Linked DNA regions of Homo sapiens: region 2 is linked to region 1. Evidence: fine-mapped expression QTL. A gene starts in region 1. The other region holds a variant in brackets. All regions are shown on one strand. Distances are from middle to middle.

Region 1 (5,386 bases):
CTACAACATTCCTATTATTGAGAGCTGGAAAAGTACTATATATGCAGTAATTAAAAACTGTGAGCCACAGTGCATTATCAGGTCATCCATCATAAAGTTTTATAACTGAAAGATCTCAGAAATCATCCAGTCCAATAATCATCATCCAAATAGATGTGTAAAGTTACTTTTGGAGCTTTGCAGAAATACACTTAATTGGTCACTTCCCACAAACCAATTTAATTAGATTTCCTAGGGTGATGGAGGTAATTCTGATGTGCAAATCTAGTTAAAAACCCCTAGCTGAATCCTATGCCCTCATTTTGCAGATAGGCAAACTGAAACCCAAAATGGTCAAATGGCCTACCTCAGTTTGTAAACCTAAGTAGTATTAGTGGCCGGTTTTCTACCAGAATATATATAGGTGACTATTATAAATTCTGGCCTTGACATCACCCCAAAATACCACCTACAGGTGCACATATTGCACAGCTATAAATACACTCCTGCTATTACCTGTTTCAAGGATGAGATCCAAAAAGATCAGATTTGCCAAGGTGATAATGCAGAGTCACTATTAGAACGCAGGTCACATTAGGCAACAGCTTTTTCAAAATTTATCAAATTCGTCTTTTCTTCCCCTTTGTCATTATTACCTTAGCATAAAAGCACCTCCACCATGTGTAGATTACTACAACACCCTCCTTAAGCTACTTTGTAAACATCAAACATCTTTGCTTTTTTAAATGTGTGTGTGTGTTTATATCAGATAGCCCTTATTCCACAGAAGATTTAGGAGAGCTTATTCAAGCCTATAATAGATGCCTAAAGCCTAACATATCCATTTTATGGCTCAATCCAACTCATATGGTCTTGTTTTCCACTTCTACCCAACATATTCAACCTTCTTAAATCAGGTCTCTCTGCTACTGACAAATATATGTATTCCTACTTTGGTTCCTTCGTTAAGTTACTTTCTATGTCTGGAATATACTTTATCTTAGTCTTTAAATACCTGTTCAAGGTCCACCAAAGTTACACTACAACTTTAAAGCTTTTCTTAATATCAACAACACACAAATCCCTAATTTCTCACATGGCTGTCTATACTGCAAGTTAATGCCTAATTATATATAGGCCTACTCTCTATGATACACAAGTCATTACTTCAGTATTGCAAGTAATAATTTTTGTCCATTAAATTGTTTCACAAATGTACATATACATTTTCCCAACAGAAATCTAAGCTTCTTGTAAACAAAAGAACATACTTCTGTGCCCCATTGGACCTACTAAAATCACAGCTCAATAAACATGACGTTATTCATAATAACATCTTCACTTTTAAAAACATGCTTTTCATCCTATTACTAGTAAATATTTAACTAGAAAATTTACTTTTTACAGGTTTTACAACTAAAAGAAGAACCAAAACAACCCAAACAAGCACTCAACAAATGCACGACAGCATGTACTATTTTTCTTTTTGCCCCACTGAATAAGCTACATCTTTCTAATTTTACCATTTGATTCATTCTACAAAATGCTTTTCCCATGGCAGTCACTTAGTCAGAACTGAGACTCCCTCTTCCTGGTTCCACTATTTTATCAGGTGAATTTCTTTTTTCACAGCCACAAAGTCATTGCACTGCTTGCATTAACATTCCCGTTAGTATAAGATGACTACCCTTAATCAGTGGGCACAGAAATCATTATATTAGTCAGAGGTGATAGTTTTTCCTTTCTTCATTTAAAAATCTATTAACGATGAGAATAAAAATAATCTTAAAAGCTTAAGTACGTAAATCACCTGGAAGGTCGACAAAATCTTCTTCTGTAGCCATTTTTGAGATGATCCTGAAAGAAAAGTAAATCATCAATTTGGTTTCTTTAAGATAGAGTCGAGTAAAATTTATTTTCAAAGTAACTTCATCCAGTATGGGCATGCTATACACCAAACATCTCCTAAGGGCTCAAAACAATTTTGAGGTTATGTTATGACATAACATAGGTTATGACAGGCATTTAAAAACTGAACTGCAGGCATCTGGTAAGCTTTATTCCGCTTCTCTCCCCACAGTGAGAATGGCTTTATTGCTTTCTTCTGATTATATATAATGTAAACAATATATGTGCTCATAGTAAAAAGTATAGATTATATTATTCTTTCATACAACTCTTTATGTTTATATGTATAACGTCACATAATGGGAGATCATCGAAGCTGAAGATTTTCTTAGAAGGGGAGATAAATTAGAAAAGAAATGATACGGATTTTTATATAGTAACCATAACCAAAGTATGAAATATAGAATAGTGAACACCAAAGAAGTCCAGAAATATGTAAACAAAATGAGTTGTCGCCCCCATTAGTCATTCACAGCTTGTACCTTTTAACTGATAGCTGTCTTTCAGAAGAGTTTGTCAATAACATATGCTCCATAAATCAGCCTCAAGAACTGCATAAAAGGCCACCATTTTGACAGAAGAACTGAAAACGTCAAATTATTTCGAGACGTACTTGTTACATAATCTGTTTCTCCCAACTACCAAGTGTGACGCAAAGACACACTTTTAAGGCGTTTCAATACTTCTACCATGGGGAGAAAAGTTATTTGGAGGCCTAGGAACTGGAGCTAGACTAAAAAGCAGAAGCCAAGATCGCGCCACTGCACTCCAGCCTGGGGGACAGAGCAAGACCCCGTCTCAAAAACAAAAACAAAAAAAAACCCAGCAGAAATCACAAGCACCTCTCAAGAGTAAGACGTAGGCACAGACGAAATGACGACATGAAAACTTAAGAAATAATAAAAGTACAGTAAATTAACTCTGGTTATCGACACACGATCACACTTGATTTCAAAAATTCCTGCGGCTTTCCCACTGAAATCCCTCAGAGATCACAGCCTCAGCCTAGCATTTCCTTCTCCCCAGCCTCGGGCGCCCGTGCCCCAGCCAGCCGCTCAACCACTCGCCTGGAGCGGGGGGCCTGCACTTACCAGACCGGACGCAGCCATGTTCCGGCCCCGCTGAGCCAGCGCAACTGTCTGAGGTGGAAGCCCACACGGACCACAGCTCCAGGAAGCCGAGCAAGAAACGAATCGCCGGAATACCAGGCCGCGGCCAAGCAATAACCTTAAGTCTCAGGCGACTGCCGCGAGAGCTGCGATCCGGAAGGCGCGCGCTAACAACACTCCCCCGCCATTGGCTCCGCCCTCAACAAACAAGAACGCTTGGCCTGTGCCTGGGTTTGAACCCGGAGACACATGCGCAAAACGGGCCGCGCCGTCCAATAGGAAGCAAGCCGTTAGTGGGCTCGCCCCTTCATGCTCCAGGCCAACGGCCCTCCAGCCTGCAGACCCACCCGCCCGCCCTACCTCTAGCCGCTCTGCTCTTCCCACCTCCCTTCCTCAGCGCCGCGCCCGGGACAGGCGCGAGACTGGGCTTTTATTAGGAAGGCACGATCCTGGGAACCGCTCCTTGTGCCCAATGTAAAACTTCTCAACAGTTCTATTAAGGAATAATAAGTAATACTTGGAAGGATGAGAGGTAGAAATTGCAGACGACTTTTTTTTTAATAGAATCTTTTTTTGAAGAGATTTTTCTAATGCAGATTCGTCAGCCACGCCCAGCCCATCTAACCATCATCTCTGAAAATAATTGAATAATTATGTATAATAATGGTGATGATGGCTTGTATTCTTTTTCAAGTATGTGGGCGATATTTTTATGATGCATTGCCAACAAATGACCCACGTAAATATCTATCATTTAAGTATGATGCACTGAAAAGAATTCTATACAGAATCCTGAAACCTGCCAGCCATTGACTAGCTATGTTATGGAGGGCAAAATTGCGGCACCATTCTGGGTGTTTCCATAGTGATAGAATGGAAGTCTAAATTAGACGCTCTGAAGACTTCTCACCTGACCAGTGTATGATTCTATGAAGCTGTATCTTATTTTATTATTTAATTTAAAATTACAAGAAAATTCTAATCAGAAAATAGTTTACTAATTGAATAAATACATTAATCAGGAGTTGAGCTAATAGATTTTTAAAACATGTAGTGCTTTAACAAATGCTGTCAACTATGAAGGCCAATTTTTTTATTTTATTTATTTTTTTGATAGAAAAAAAGGAACTATGATCTCTGACTGAAATTAGGCCTGGATTGCACTCCATTCCATTAATTCTGCCATTATGGGCAACTAAGTTATCTGTTCCTTAATTCTCTTGTCTGCAAAATGAGAATACTATTAAAGTGGTTGAGATGTTGTAATTGAATAATTCCTGTTAAGATCTAAGCACAATGTTTGGAACATAGTAAGAATTCAATAATAAAGCTATTGGAATCATTATGGAGAGTTTTTTACTATGTTTGGCAGTTTTGCCAATCAGTCCAACTTATAATTTGGTGCTGTCACATTTGGAATAGATAATGATAAACACTAACATTTATTGACTGCATACTCTATGCCCAGTTCTGAAATGCTTTGCATGCATTGAAGAGAACAATTAATATTCCTGTTTTATAAACAAGGGCACTGAAACACAGAGAGCTAAGTGTCTTACCCAAGATCACATCACCACTAAATGGTAGGATGGGTTATTATCCCAAGAATTCTCACTCCACAACTGAGCTCTTAATCACTACACTCTTTGCCTCTGGGTAAGAAATTTTAGCAAGCACGATTATAGATGTAAAGTCCCACATGTAAAATTATATCCTCCTGCTTCCACTGGAAACTAAGTCCCACACTTATTTTGAGAAATTTGGAATGCAATGGCTTGTGCTGCTGCAGAAAGCAGGCCACAGAGGGCGTTGAGGATTAACTGTTCTAAAGAAAATAGAGCAGTACTCTTATAAAAACAGTTGTGGAGACTCCACAGTTTCCAGAGAAACGTTTTACTTCCATATGTACTTGTTGTAGTACTTAATAGCCCACCATGGTTTTAGTATCCTAAAATAGGATTGCTAATTAATGGGGGGAGTAATATTTATTTAAAAACCCAAGTTTGTCGTTATAAATCTCCCCCCAAAATACATCAAAGATTACTTCTTATGAACTGCTAGGACAATCTTGAAGTTTTCTTTCACAACTACTTACCTAGTTAAGGGGTGTGTGTGCATGTGTGTATTTACATATCAGTATATGGAAGTATTAACATATACATAATTAGATGTGTATATGGGAACATAAAGTATCCAGAAATTTGGCTTGAAAGAGAAGTAAAAAAAACTTTTCGTTACTTATGGTTTTAGGTACATAATTTAAAATTTGTAAATCTTGAAACTATTTCAAAGAATATTTTGTTTTAGATCTTTGATTTCCATCAAATAACTATGGTATGGGTATTTACTACCAAAGTGTCTTCCATTAAGTGTTAGCACAAAAATATTCA
Region 2 (5,386 bases), 26 kb before region 1:
AAAGACAGAATGCAAAAATTAGATTATGTTTTTCTCTTTTAATTAGAACATACACAAGGAATCAGAAATGAAAATGCCTTCTCTATTCCTCTAATCGCAAACTCCTGACAAATCTTATAATGTAAAATAGCAAATACTCTAAAAAATATACTCTCTAATGGTAGAGTTTCACAAACTTATATAATTAGAAAACTCTATAAAAACTAATAAAGAACAAAGTCAATACAAATACTACAATGAATGGATGTTAAACAGAAATGATATCCTTAGGAAACAATCTTGACACTATGAAAGTTTACAATAGGGAAAGATGGCTTCTAATTAGCTACAAAAACTATGAAACGCTTTGTAGCATTTAGGCTAGATCTTGGAGGATTTCTAAGATTTGGTCACAAGGAAATGCAAGAAAGACAATCAAAAGGAAGAGCATAAGTGGAAGCAATGATGCTAGAAAGCACTGGGAATAATGAATAGTTATATTTGACTACAACAATTAAACATAAGATGAACTTTACTCACTAGAGTATCAAAAAGAACATTAAAAAATAATTTCTCAGACATTATATAATTAGCCCACAAGTATAACGCATTTGTTTCAGATGGTGGTGACAATATCCATATGAGGTTTAAAATATACACATAAAAATAATTAATCAACTACAGGAAGCAGAGACTGAACAAAAGGGGAATTTCATTCATTCATTTAACATGTTTTTATAAAAACTTCCTTTTTATTTTTGAGACTGAGTCTCACTCTGTCACCTAGGCTAGAGTGCAGTGGCACCGTCTCGACTCACTGCAACCTCCACCTCCCAGGTTCAAGTGTTTCTCTTACCTCAGCCTCCCGAATAGCTGGGATTACAGGCATGTGCCACCAAGCCCGACTAATTTTTGTATTTTTAGTAGAGATGGGGTTTCACCATGTTGGTCAGGCTGGTCTTGAACCTCTGATCTCAAGTGATCCACCCGCCTCGGCCTATCAAAGTGCTAGCATTACAGACATGAGCCACCGCGCCCAGCAATAAAAACTTCCTAGTATATTCACTAGCACTCTGATACCTATGATAGTGACATAAGGGCAGCCTAACATAACGATTTCTAAATACTGCATTGTCGGCCGGGTGCGGTGGCTCAAGCTTGTAATCCCAGCACTTTGGGAGGCCGAGGCAGATGGATCACCTGAGGTCAGGAGTTCGAGACCAGCCTGACCAACATGGGGATATCCCATCTCTACTAAAAATACAAATATTAGACAGGCGTGGTGGCAGGTGCCTGTGATCCCAGCTACTCGGGAGGCTGAGCAGGAGAATCTCTTGAACCCAGGAGGGAGAGGTTGCAATGAGCCGAGATTGCGTCACTGCACTCCAGCCTGGAAGACAGAGCGAGACCCTGTCTCAAAATAAATACATACATACATACATAAATACTGCATTGACTTCAGTCTTTGATATCACACAGACAAACCAGAAGGCAATGAAAACTGAATAAACTTGTTTTCTTTCAAGTCTAATTTAGTATCTATTAAAAAATGGCTTTGGGAGTGACTCACTGACTGGTAAAAAACCATCTCTCCTTACAGGTCAGAAAAAATTTCAATTAAAATTTTTGTTAATTAAATTACTTATTTCTAAGTTAAATAGCATTAGGAATCCTTATATATGGTTCATAGAATATAAAAGAAAAATGTCTCAAAGGGCAGTTTCTTAATAACTCACCTGGATTCACTTTTTCGTTTTACTGTTTCTAAAAACAATGTTGAAAAACTTTTTTTAGCTTGTCGTTGAATTTCATATTCTGAATCTCGTATTCTATTCTGAGATGATCCTGATGGTTTTCTTTCTTGTCCTTCCGATGTTTTATCCTCTTCATCTGATACTTTATTATCTATTTCTATTTTCTTTAACATAACTTTATCATCAAAGTTTAACCTAAAAGGTTAAAAGGAGGGTAAGCTGAATGCTCCCGTAACGTTTCTTGAGTTATAAGTCTTCCTGAACTCCTTTACAGAGACAATACAGACCAATTTAAAATTCTGTACTAGGCATTTATTTAAGACATAAATGCTGATTTGTGCATTCCAAATACATAAGATAAACTG[C/T]TCAGGAAAATTAACTTTTGTATTTATCAATAGAAAAACATGAAAGAGAAAATAATGGCTAAAGTATACATCAATGAAATGTATAGCTAGGCAATGGTTCTCAGGGCAATCTTAGAGCACTGTGACAGACCAAACTTTGAATATCAAAGTCTTAGAATATACTTAACTCCTTGGCTCCAGTAATCATACAATACTCTAAATAGAAATTACACTCATTACAGAGATCTCCAAATGCAAAAGACCTTGAATCCACTTTGTTTCCTAAAGGCCAAAGGTAAGGTCAAGAAAGAGAAACCAGCTGTCCACAAAGCATAGCATCCTCAATAATACTTATGCTCTGCTACCCTTGAAGTGACCTGATACACATCTACACTTGCAATTACAAAAAATATTGAGAAAATACAAATTGTTTCTCTTAGGAAGCAATCAAATATTATCAGAGAGAAAACACATTATTCCAGACTATAGAAAAGTTAACCTCTAAACTTCTCTGAAGTACACTTTAAGCCCTTCCTTAATTATTACAAACTGAATATATGCTAAATGTATACTTTCTCATAACATGTTAATATTCCTCCTTCCTTAGTGTAAAATAATATAACAAGATTGAATTACCATTTTTTAATACAAAAAGTAAAATTTTTAAAGTGCGTTAACATTATTTAAATAAAATGTTACCTTTTTTTGGTTTTAACTGAAACCTCTGTACTTGAAGGCAGCATATTTACTGAATTTTCAAAAGTGTAAGTCTCTCTCTTTTGGGCACTAGATGGAATAACATTTTGTGATACAGATGTTTTTGCATCCAAAAGAACAGAAGGTGAGCCAACGGATAAGTAAAATTCTTCATCAGCTTCACTGTGATGATCATTTATGTTTCTACTTGATATTTTTTTCGAGTCAGGTGTATTTTTGGAACTAACATCAGTTGCCAGAATTTTCTGATGAACTTCATGGGCCTGAACTAGAAGAAAATTATATAAAGATATTTGTCAATTAAAAGAATAATAAGAGAATCAAGCAGGCTTTTTAAAAATTCTGCAATAATTTAATCAGAAATAGTTTTCAGAAAACTCAAAGTCATTAAGATTAGAATCAAAGATCTATGATTAAAATAAGTAAGTACTTAAGATTCTTCTATCTTTGGGCTAAAAATTGGTGACCTAGGGCAGCTAGATGATATATTTACACATACACACATGGAATATAGATATAACAGATATAGAGAGATACAACATAAGCATGTGTGTATATATACATACACAGTATATATGTATATGAACATTTATCTATAATGAGAAAATTTAAAAGAATGTATCCATATTCTCTTAACCCTCACCCTTCAGAACGAGATGGCATTTCCCTGCTTCTCCCTCTAAATACAACTAACTTCCCTGGAAATTATCCATCAATCAACAACAGGACTCTGAAAGCTGGAAGAAAAAAAGGTAGACTAGCTAGGAAGCTCAAGACCAGAAACAGACAAGCCTTAGGTTTTCTGTCTGTCTCCCATATACCCCTGGACTGGTTGCTAGTATAACCTGTAACCACCAATAGGTGAAAGACAGGGTGGAGGCTGGGTGGAAATGCATTCTCTGAACAAGGTAAACCCACCGAAGACCTAATGAGGAAACTCAAGCCCCATTCAGCACTCTCGGCCATGGAGCACTCCTTACTACCTGCATTGGCAAAGCAACAAAGCCCTGGGCTGTGCTATGGGACTGTAGCAGTAAAGGAGCTCATACCAAGCCAGTCCCGCTTCTACAATCATAGATGGCAGGCGGTATGACCCACATGAAGCTGTAGAGTAGTGAAACCCCTGACCTTCACAGCCCAAGGCAACATTTTGATCCACTGATAGTATTGACACCCCAGGCCATCCCAGTCCCTACTTTACAACCAGGGCACCAGCAGACAGTCTAATCTGAGGCAAGAACAGCGTAAGAGAGGCCAGCAACCCCCTGTCCTCCACCCAATGATATAAGGAAACCCAGGACCAGCAGCTTCTAACCAGAACCCCACACAAGTGAACATGGACATCAAAAGGCATCTTCTACCCACCCCAGACAGCACCAACAGGAACTGAGCTAGAATCCTAACAGCATCAGAAAATGAAGTAGAACAAAATACCACTATTACTCTGAACACTTAACTATCATTGAAAATAAAACTCATAAAACTAGGAAAGAGGGGCTGGGCGCAGTGGTTCATGCCTGCAATCCCAGCACTTTGGGAGGCCAAAACGGGTGGATCACTGGAGGCCAGGAGTTCAAGACCAGCCTGGCCAACATGGCGAAACCCCATCTCTACTAAAAATACAAAAATTAGCCAGGCGTAGTGGCACATGCCTGTAATCCCAGCTACTCGGGAGGCTGAAGCATGAGAATCACTTGAACCCAGGAGGCGGCGGTTGCACTGAGCTAAGATCACACCACTGCCCTCCAGCCTGAGCGACAGAGCAAGACTCTGTCTCAAAAAATAAACAAATAAATAAATAAATAAATAAATAAATAAATAACACAGGAAAGAACCTATACATTAAACCAAAATAGGGCAACTATGTGCTGTAACAAAAGATTTAAGTAGTCTAAGAATCCCCTAACATAAGTAACCAAATCTCAGGAATACAATCAAAACAACTCGTCATACCAAAACCAAAACAAACCAAAAAAAAAAAAAAGTAAGAAATAATGATCAATAGACATAAATGAGATGAATCAGATTTTAAAATTATTTAACAATAAATTTTAAAGCAAACATCATAAAATGCTTTAATAATCAATTACAAATCCTCTTGTAACAAATGAAAAAGAAACTCTCAAAGTAGCATTTTTTAAAAAAAAGTTTTTTGGATATTAGCCATTATCAGTAAGTAGTGATTTTTAAATATTATTTTAAATTTTCCTAATAACAGTGATGTAAAACAAATCAAAACTACAATGAGATACTACATCACACCCATTAGGATGACTATTATTTATAAAAACAAAAGATAACAACTGTTGATGTAGAAAAAAATGGAACCTTTGTGCATGCACTGCTAGTGTGAATGTAGAATGACAGTCACTATGAAAAGTGCACAGTGGATCCTTAAAAACTTAAAACTGAAAGCAGGAACTCAAAGAGATACTTTCACACTAATATTCATAGCAGCATTACTCACAATAGCCAAAAAGCGAAAACAACCCAAGTGCCCATCAACAGATTAATAGATAAAAAGTGGTATACACATACAATGAAATATTACCCAGTCTTAGAATGAAATTCTGACACATACTACAACATGGA

Evidence for each region. PIP is the estimated chance that this variant, and not a neighbour inherited with it, causes the effect.
Region 2: its variant is the best candidate, but not a certain one, in a credible set for the expression of CENPC in whole blood (INTERVAL, PIP 0.55).

What each region holds. Positions count from the first base shown.
Region 1 is chr4:67,542,360-67,547,745 of GRCh38, forward strand. CENPC (centromere protein C) reads right to left here and starts at 3,144. Exons shown (of 19, transcript NM_001812.4): 1 at 2,979-3,144; 2 at 1,790-1,836. The coding sequence starts at 2,996. RefSeq lists enhancers at 2,899-3,138, 2,916-3,466 and a silencer at 3,289-3,428.
Region 2 is chr4:67,516,441-67,521,826 of GRCh38, forward strand. It overlaps CENPC (centromere protein C), which reads right to left. Exons shown (of 19, transcript NM_001812.4): 6 at 2,777-3,062; 7 at 1,716-1,928. Among named protein-coding and RNA genes, the nearest start is that of CENPC, 26 kb to the right of the region's middle. RefSeq lists enhancers at 3,533-4,034, 4,035-4,534. The variant C/T (reference allele first, on the strand shown) is at 2,099.